Linked DNA regions of Homo sapiens. The protein of the gene in region 1 purifies or fractionates together with the protein of each later gene. This does not show direct contact. Each region holds a gene or a part of one and is shown on either strand. Other genes may lie near its edges.

Region 1 (3,754 bases):
AATGCATGAACTTTAGACCAAGATTTTAGTGTTATGCAGAACTTAATATGACAACACTAAGAACATATCACCACATATTTAAATAGGTACTTTTGTTAAAAATTTTAAGTTTCAGATGATAACGCCTTTTTAACTAGACATAAAAGCTACAATTTTATGGCTAGAGTCATCTCTCTAATTTTCTAGAGTACTTTCTCATCCATATCTTTTTGTATCATTCTAGCTAAATCTCTTCTCTTTTGTATTATACCAAAACAGACAAATGGTTTTTTTTTAGATACCCTGTTTTTTCATATACTGGAAGATAAGAAATATCACATTGGTCTTTGTCTTGCAACAGTTTTGTAGGATGAGTTAATGTGTTTATCTTCATTGTAGAATGTGTGGGTTCTTTAGTCATGGAGTAGAAATAGAGATGTCTGTTTATCATTAGCAATTATCTTCTGTGTTGTTCAAACTCTTTAACATTTTCCTTTTAGGAAGATTACTAAGCAGAGCTAACACTGAAAAATCTTATGGTATTGATGAAAACGGGAGAGATGAGAATACTATGAAAAATATATTTTCAAAAAAGAGGAAATTAGAAGTTGCATGTTCAGATTGTGAAGTTGAAGTTCTCCCATTAGGATTGGAAACACATCCTAGAACTGCTAAAACTGAGAAATGTCCACCAAAGTTCAGTAATAATCCCAAGGAGCTTACTGTGTAAGTAACAGCTGAGGAACCCAGAGTAAATCTAAATTATTATCAATCAATTGGTTCTTTTTCATTCCTTCCCCTCTTTCTTTTCTCCTCATTTGTATTTATCATTTTGCTTCAAAGTTGTTAAGTCTAACACTTTGAGAAATCCAGGACATGTAAAAATCTAGCCAATATACCATCCTCAGTGTTCCAGTTTTGGAATTTTACCTTATATGACTTTAGTCAGGTTTTTTATGGATGTCATAAGTTTTGCTGTTTTTTAAAATTTTCTATCATTTTATCTGCAAAGTTTTCATAGGTTCTCTTCCTTTTCCAAATGTACTTCAAAAATTATTTATGATTATATTTCCTTTCTCTAGGGAAAGGAATAAACATAGATGTTCTTACTTAGGTTAATTTATAATAATTAAGGATATTTATGTAATAATGGATATTATCTGTACTTGAGTAAAGAGAATGAAGAGAATTTTTAGTGATACAGAATAACTTTTTTTTCCTTTTTAGGGAAACGAAATATGATAATATTTCAAGAATTCAATATCATTCAGTTATTAGAGATCCTGAATCCAAGACAGCCATTTTTCAACACAATGGGAAAAAAATGGTAAAAAATGCAAAATGTAGTTGGGACCCTTCTTTTCTTTTTTAAATTTTTTTTTTTTTTTTTTTTTTTTTTTTTTTTTTTTTGACGCAGAGTCTCACTCTGTCACCCAGGCTGGAGTGTGGTGGCACAGTCACAGCTCACTGCAGCCACAATCTCCTGGGCTCGAGTATCCTCCTCCCTCAGCCTCCCGAATGGCTGGGACTACAGGTGCACACCACCATGCCCAGCTCTTATTTAGTAGAGATGGGGTCTCACTATATTGCCCAGGCTGGTCTCCAACTCCTGAGCTCTAGCAGCTGTTGTGCCTCAGCCTCCCAAAGTTCTGGGATTATAGGCATGAGCCACCGCACCCAGCTGCTGGGGCCCTTCTGAGATGTAAACTATTGCCTTCCTATCCTTTACTTAGCTCAAAATGTTTGTGTTACTTTATAGTGTGTAGAATTTCTTTTATTGTTTTGGAATGGTGGACGGTGGAAATGCTAGGACCATGTTCTGTTTACTTAGTATCATCCACGGCAGTTGACATGTTTCCAGCTTGGCTGTATGAGGAGAATGCTGGTCATGATCTGACAGTGTGCTCCACTGAGACCGAGAGGTATCCCATTCTGAGAGTTTGTGGGAGAAGCTAAAGTCTTCAGGAGTTAATAGTGATATATAAGAAAAGGGACAAAGTAATTTAGGTGAAGGAGAACAAGGTTTTTGTTTTTTGTTTTGTTTTGTTTTGAGATGGAGTTTCACTCTTGTTGCCCAGGCTGGAGTGCAATGGCACGATCTCAGCTTATTGCAACCTCTGCCTCCTGGGTTCAAGCGATTCCCCTGCTTCAGCCTCATGAGTAGCTGGGATTACAGGTGCCTGCCACCATGCCCAGCTACTTTTTTGTATTTTTAGTAGAGACGGGGTTTCATGATGTTGGCCAGCTGGTCTCAAACTCCTGACCTCAGGTGATCCACCCACTTTGGCCTCCCGAAGTGCTGGGATTAGAGGCGTGAGCCACTGCGCCTGGCTGAAGGTTTTAAGATGTATGAGAAAGAAGAGATGCAATTTTATGAAAGAATCATCCAGAAAACAGTATTTTATGTGGTAGCCTCTGAGGGTACCCTTTGCATTGTGAACTAAAGATTAGTCAGAGACTGAAACGTAGAAGCAGAGAAAGAGAAAAGAGAACAAAGAGAGACATAATGGTAGCTTACTTTAGGGCTTGTTGATGAAGAGTAAAAACTCTGCTTTAGGTGTTATGCAAATATTTGCCCTCTGCCTGGTAATGGTACAGTAGCTACCTCCTTAAGGTCAGAGAATTATGAAAAGATTGGCCATGGTGTCACACAGACCCAGGTGTAACCTCCAGCTCTGCTGCGTGCTAGCTGGGTGGTATCTCCATACATACATTTCTTTTATCTGTAAAAAGGTAATAGTATATGTTTCAGAATTATGAGGATTAAATGAGATAAGCATCAGCAACTTGCTTAGCATCCAACTAAGTGCTCAATACATGTTGACCATTCACATGCTGAGAACTTTCATAGTAATAATATGGTCAATGTGTATTGAATACTTAGTTGGTTGCCAAGCATTGTGCTGAGTATATACGCCTCTTTTAAAGTTATCATTACTACTTAAAGTGACTGCAGTGTCTACAATGTGTAAGCATTATCACATTCGTTAACCTTTCTTTGAAGTAGAAACTAGCCAATGAGTGTTTTTCATCTTTACACAACTTACAGTTGAAGGCAAATTTATAATCTAGTAATAACACTTTCTAAGTACTGAGATGATTAGAATTGGGGGATACAGACAGGGATGCATTAAGATTTTAATTCCCAAAGAATTTCTTGACAGTCTTTATAGCTGTGGCTTAATAAAGCACCTAGAAGTAGAACAGAGTCAAAGGGGATGACACTTGTTGACTCCATTAGTCTAAAGACTCCTTATGATATCAGCTTTGAGGCTTTTCAAAACGAATCTAGTACATATAGCCTATGATGATTGACACTTGATGAAAGAGGCCTAACTGCTAAATACTTTTGCCTGACCTGGAAAGTAAAGACATCTTCCTTGTTTTTTTAAGGAATTTGTTTCCTCGGAGTCTGTCACTCCAGAAGATAATGATGGATTTAAACCACCCCGAGAGCATCTGAACTCTAAAACCAAGGGAGCACAAAGTAGGCTTTGTTTCTTCTGTGAATGCCTACCTCTTCTGCCTGTTTCTCTGTCTCTTGCTCAATACCTGTAGCTCATTTTCTTAGATTCCATAATAAACATGCTGCATTTGTCAGAAAGGTTACAACTTGTCTACATAAGAGATCAGCAAAATATCGTGTGTGGGCCAAATCTGGCCCTCTACCTGTTCAGTATGGCATGTGAGCTAAGAATGATATTTATGTTTTTAAATAGTTGAAAAAAATCAGAAGGTGATAATATTTTGACACTTGAAAATTATATGAAATTAC
Region 2 (3,754 bases), on another chromosome or scaffold:
ATCCCAGCACTTTGGGAGGCCAAGGTGGGAGGATCACTTGAGGCCAGGAGTTCAAGACCAGCCTGGCCAACATGGCAAAACCTGTCTCTACTAAAAATACAAAAATTAGCTGGTCATGGTGGTGGGCACCTGTAATCTCAGCTACTGGGGAGGCTGAGGCACAAGAATCTTTTGAACCCAGGAGACAGAGGTTGCAGTGAGCTGAGATTGTGCCACTGCACTTCAGCCTGGGTGTGACAGAGCGAGACTCCATCTCAAAAGAAAAAAAAGAGAGAGAGACTGGAAAAAGAGACCTAATCAAGTAAAGGAAAAAATTTAATTAAAAAAATCTAGACTATGGAAGATAATTAATATGTACAAGTTTTATTGATCAATTTATTTAAATTTACTAAAATAATTTAGAATTAATTGTGCTGCCTAAGTCATCAGGCATTTCAGCAACAATTGCTTTTAACTCAGTTCGAACTTAAGAAGGGATATTGTGACTTTTTAAAGCCCTGAATCAAGTTCTTTTCTGAACTTGGTCAACTCCCAGCTGCCATTTAGATGGTTTTAAAGTATTCGGTCCTGGATTTACGCCATAAACTTAATAAGATTCTGCTCCAGCAACATGTAGTAAAAACTGTTTTTCTCTTGGCTTTTTAAAGTAAACAAACAAACAAACAAAACAGTTCTCATAAATTCCTTTTAATCAATTCCTTTTCTTTCCATCTTACTACATGCTTTTGTCACTTCATTAAGTAGATACTATGTGCCAGTTTTTCTGCTAGGTCCTGATAACTGTTAAGATGAACAAGACAGGGTTTCTAGTTCCAAGGAGCACAGAATCTGGTGAAGACAGCAGATATGCCAGTGAAGGATTATGACAGAAGGTGACTGAGCCTCCTGTAAATATGAGCAGCACTCTGTTTTCTCCTGACCTCATATTGCGTTCCCACAGCAGCTCCGAGGCTGTTCTCAGTGTATGCTGATCTTCACTTTTATTGAGTGTTTTCTCTGGAAAAAGGCCAATAAAAACATTTCATTTCTCTTTTGGACAATATATATTTCTAAGAGCCAGGTTTTTCTGCACCAAAACCTTACAACCAATGGTCTGCACTGGTTTTCCAGCCATGCTTAAGCCCGTATTACCAACATTTCTGGTCCCAGTCGCCTCTGCAGGGGAGTCTCTTCCACTAGCGTGTTTCTGTTTCCAGCCCTCAATGGATACCTCTTCGGAAACTTCCCGGAGCCTGATATGTGTGTTGGAGAATCTGTGTCCTGGCACCTATTTGGAATGGGGAATGAAATAGACATCCATTCTATCTATTTCTATGGTAACACCTTCATCAGCAGAGGGCATCGGACTGATGTCGTCAACCTGTTCCCAGCCACCTTCCTTACAACAGAAATGATAGCCGAGAATCCTGGGAAGTGGATGATAACCTGCCAGGTCAGCGACCACCTACAAGGTAAAAAGGATAAAGACCAGAGTTGATATGTTTAGAATGGTACAATCAAACCACACAGTCACTAGTGCTCATCCAGTACCTACTGTTAGATAGAGCCTTGTATGTACTATATTTAATTAGGTAATAAATATACAGGAAAATATAACGCTCATCTCTTTGATATTCTATCAACAGATATTTATTGACCACTTCTGTATGAAAAAAGTGGGGAAGTGATTAAAAATTGATGAGACCTTCGAGGAACCTGTAGTATAGTTGTTAGACATAGTTAGACATTCACAAAATGAATACGATTTAAGGCAGAATGAGATAAATGCTCTTTGGGTGTTGCAGTCACTACTCTGGAGCAATCAGAGGGGCTTCCTGAGGAGCTGGCTCCTAACATGAGCCTTGAAATATGAGTAGGAACTGAATAGATGAAGAAGGAAAGAAAGACTTTTGAGGAAGCAGCATGAACTGGGAAAAACACATGTTCTTTTTGAGCAACTGTAAGTAGAGTAATAAGGTTTTAGCACTGGAAAGGACTTTCTGGATAATAAGGACCAATCCCCCCTCGAATTATTTAATTTCGTTTTGAACATCTCTTGTGAGTAGTTATAGCAGCTCATCTCATCTCTGGACTGCTCTATTGGAATGTTCTTCCTCAAATTGAGACAAAATCCATTGACCTATAGCTTCCTTCATGTCCTATGATAGGTGCATGATAAACATTTGTTGGCTTAAATGCCTGTTGAATGACCTGGTCCTGGTTTCTTCAGACATCATACACTATGTCCTTTCTTAGCTGGACCATAATGTTCCTTACAGAGAAGTGATGACAGAAGAGCCTGGGAGGCTCATCAGGCCCCTTAGCAAAGCTAAGGAGGTGGGGCTGTGTGATCCTTAGCTCTTTTGGCACACTAGTGACATAATCGGTGCAGTTATTTAAGAAGATAAATGTATGCATGCAAGAAGGACTTGATGGAGGAATTCTGACCACTGGATGCTAGTTAAGAAGCATTTGACAGTGTTAGAGGTCTAACACCTAAACGTCTGCCCTAAGATGATGAAACCAAGACAGAAAAAATATGTTAATGGAATAGACACAGAAGAAATAATGTCTGATATTTGGATACTAACTTCCCATAGTCACTAATAGGTGCAAAGATCCAGCTGCTCAGGGCTGCTTTTGTAACACATTCTTGTTCCTGTCCACCTTCCACAGTGAGTCATAGCATTAGTCAACTGCAGTATCCCAATTACATTCAACTGAAAAATTAATCAGTTAATATGTACTAGATGCTCTTCTGGGAAAACAAAGATTAACAAGAGAAGGTTTCTATTCTCAAAGAGTCTTATGCTGTTAAATCTGGGAAGAAACTGTAGATTTAAAATCAAGATATTAGCTGCCATTTGAGACTAGTAAGATCGCTAAATTAGCCCGATAGTTGTGGACATAAGCTAGTATTTATACGTTCCCTGAAATACAGTATTTCTAAATTGTCCATGCCTTCAGAAAAAAGTTATTGTAAAAAAATTAGAAAATACATATAATTGGAGGTTTTTTAACAAATAGAGACAGGGTCTTGCTATGTTGCCCAGGCTGGTCTCAAACTCCTGGGCCCAAGCAATCCTCCCACCTTAGCCTTTCAAAGTGCTGGGATTATAGGCATGAGCCACTGGATCTGGCCCCTATAAATTGGTTTTAAAATCAGTAGTTCCATAATAGAAATATTTTATATTCACATTTTGGTGAATATCTTCCCTATTTTCTATTTCTTAATATGTAAATATATATGTATTTTAAAAAATGAAATCAGTCTATTAATGCTGCACTGTAGCTAATTTTTCTCATTTACAAATATATCAGAAACACATTTTCATGTCGGTGAATATAGAGCTTACTTCATCATGGTTAATACTTCCAGTGTCCATTATAAGGAGATTACATCTTGCTTAATCAATACTCTATTGCTTAATGCTTATGTTTCCCACCAATTTTTTTGCTATTATAAACAGCACTGATGACTATTATTTATAGATGTTTGCACTTTTGTCTGAACATTTTCTTAGAAAAACTCCTAGATTTAGAATTTCTGGGTCAAAGAGTATGATTTTTTTAAAAAAGCTATGGACATACATTGCCACATTCTCTTTTGGAAATTGTTATTCTTCTACACGAAGTGTATGAGTATGGCTCTTTCCCCATTCATCTACCAACACTGAGAATTATTAGTCTTTCTAATCTTTACTAATCTGATCAATGAACAATAGTATCATTTGAAAACTGTTAAGGTTTGAGTACTATTTGAGTACTGTTAAGG

Evidence for each region. Proteins that work in one complex are often made in the same cells at the same time.
Region 2: the proteins of SETDB2 (region 1) and HEPHL1 purify together in Homo sapiens (affinity purification with mass spectrometry; 2 studies listed by BioGRID and IntAct, with this or other methods). This does not show direct contact.

Annotation. Positions count from the first base shown.
Region 1 is NC_000013.11:49,482,258-49,486,011, forward strand, and holds part of SETDB2 (histone-lysine N-methyltransferase SETDB2), read left to right. Parts: intron 1-479; coding exon 480-705; intron 706-1,206; coding exon 1,207-1,306; intron 1,307-3,372; coding exon 3,373-3,466; coding exon of another isoform or gene 3,467-3,537; exon of another isoform or gene 3,538-3,588; intron 3,589-3,754. Other genes in the region: SETDB2-PHF11 protein, read left to right, coding at 480-705, 1,207-1,306, 3,373-3,466. UniProt on the Homo sapiens protein: Histone methyltransferase involved in left-right axis specification in early development and mitosis. Specifically trimethylates 'Lys-9' of histone H3 (H3K9me3).
Region 2 is NC_000011.10:94,066,300-94,070,053, forward strand, and holds part of HEPHL1 (ferroxidase HEPHL1 precursor), read left to right. Parts: intron 1-671; exon of another isoform or gene 672-996; intron 997-1,135; exon of another isoform or gene 1,136-1,196; coding exon 1,197-1,451; intron 1,452-3,754. UniProt on the Homo sapiens protein: Is a copper-binding glycoprotein with ferroxidase activity. It oxidizes Fe(2+) to Fe(3+) without releasing radical oxygen species. May be involved in the regulation of intracellular iron content.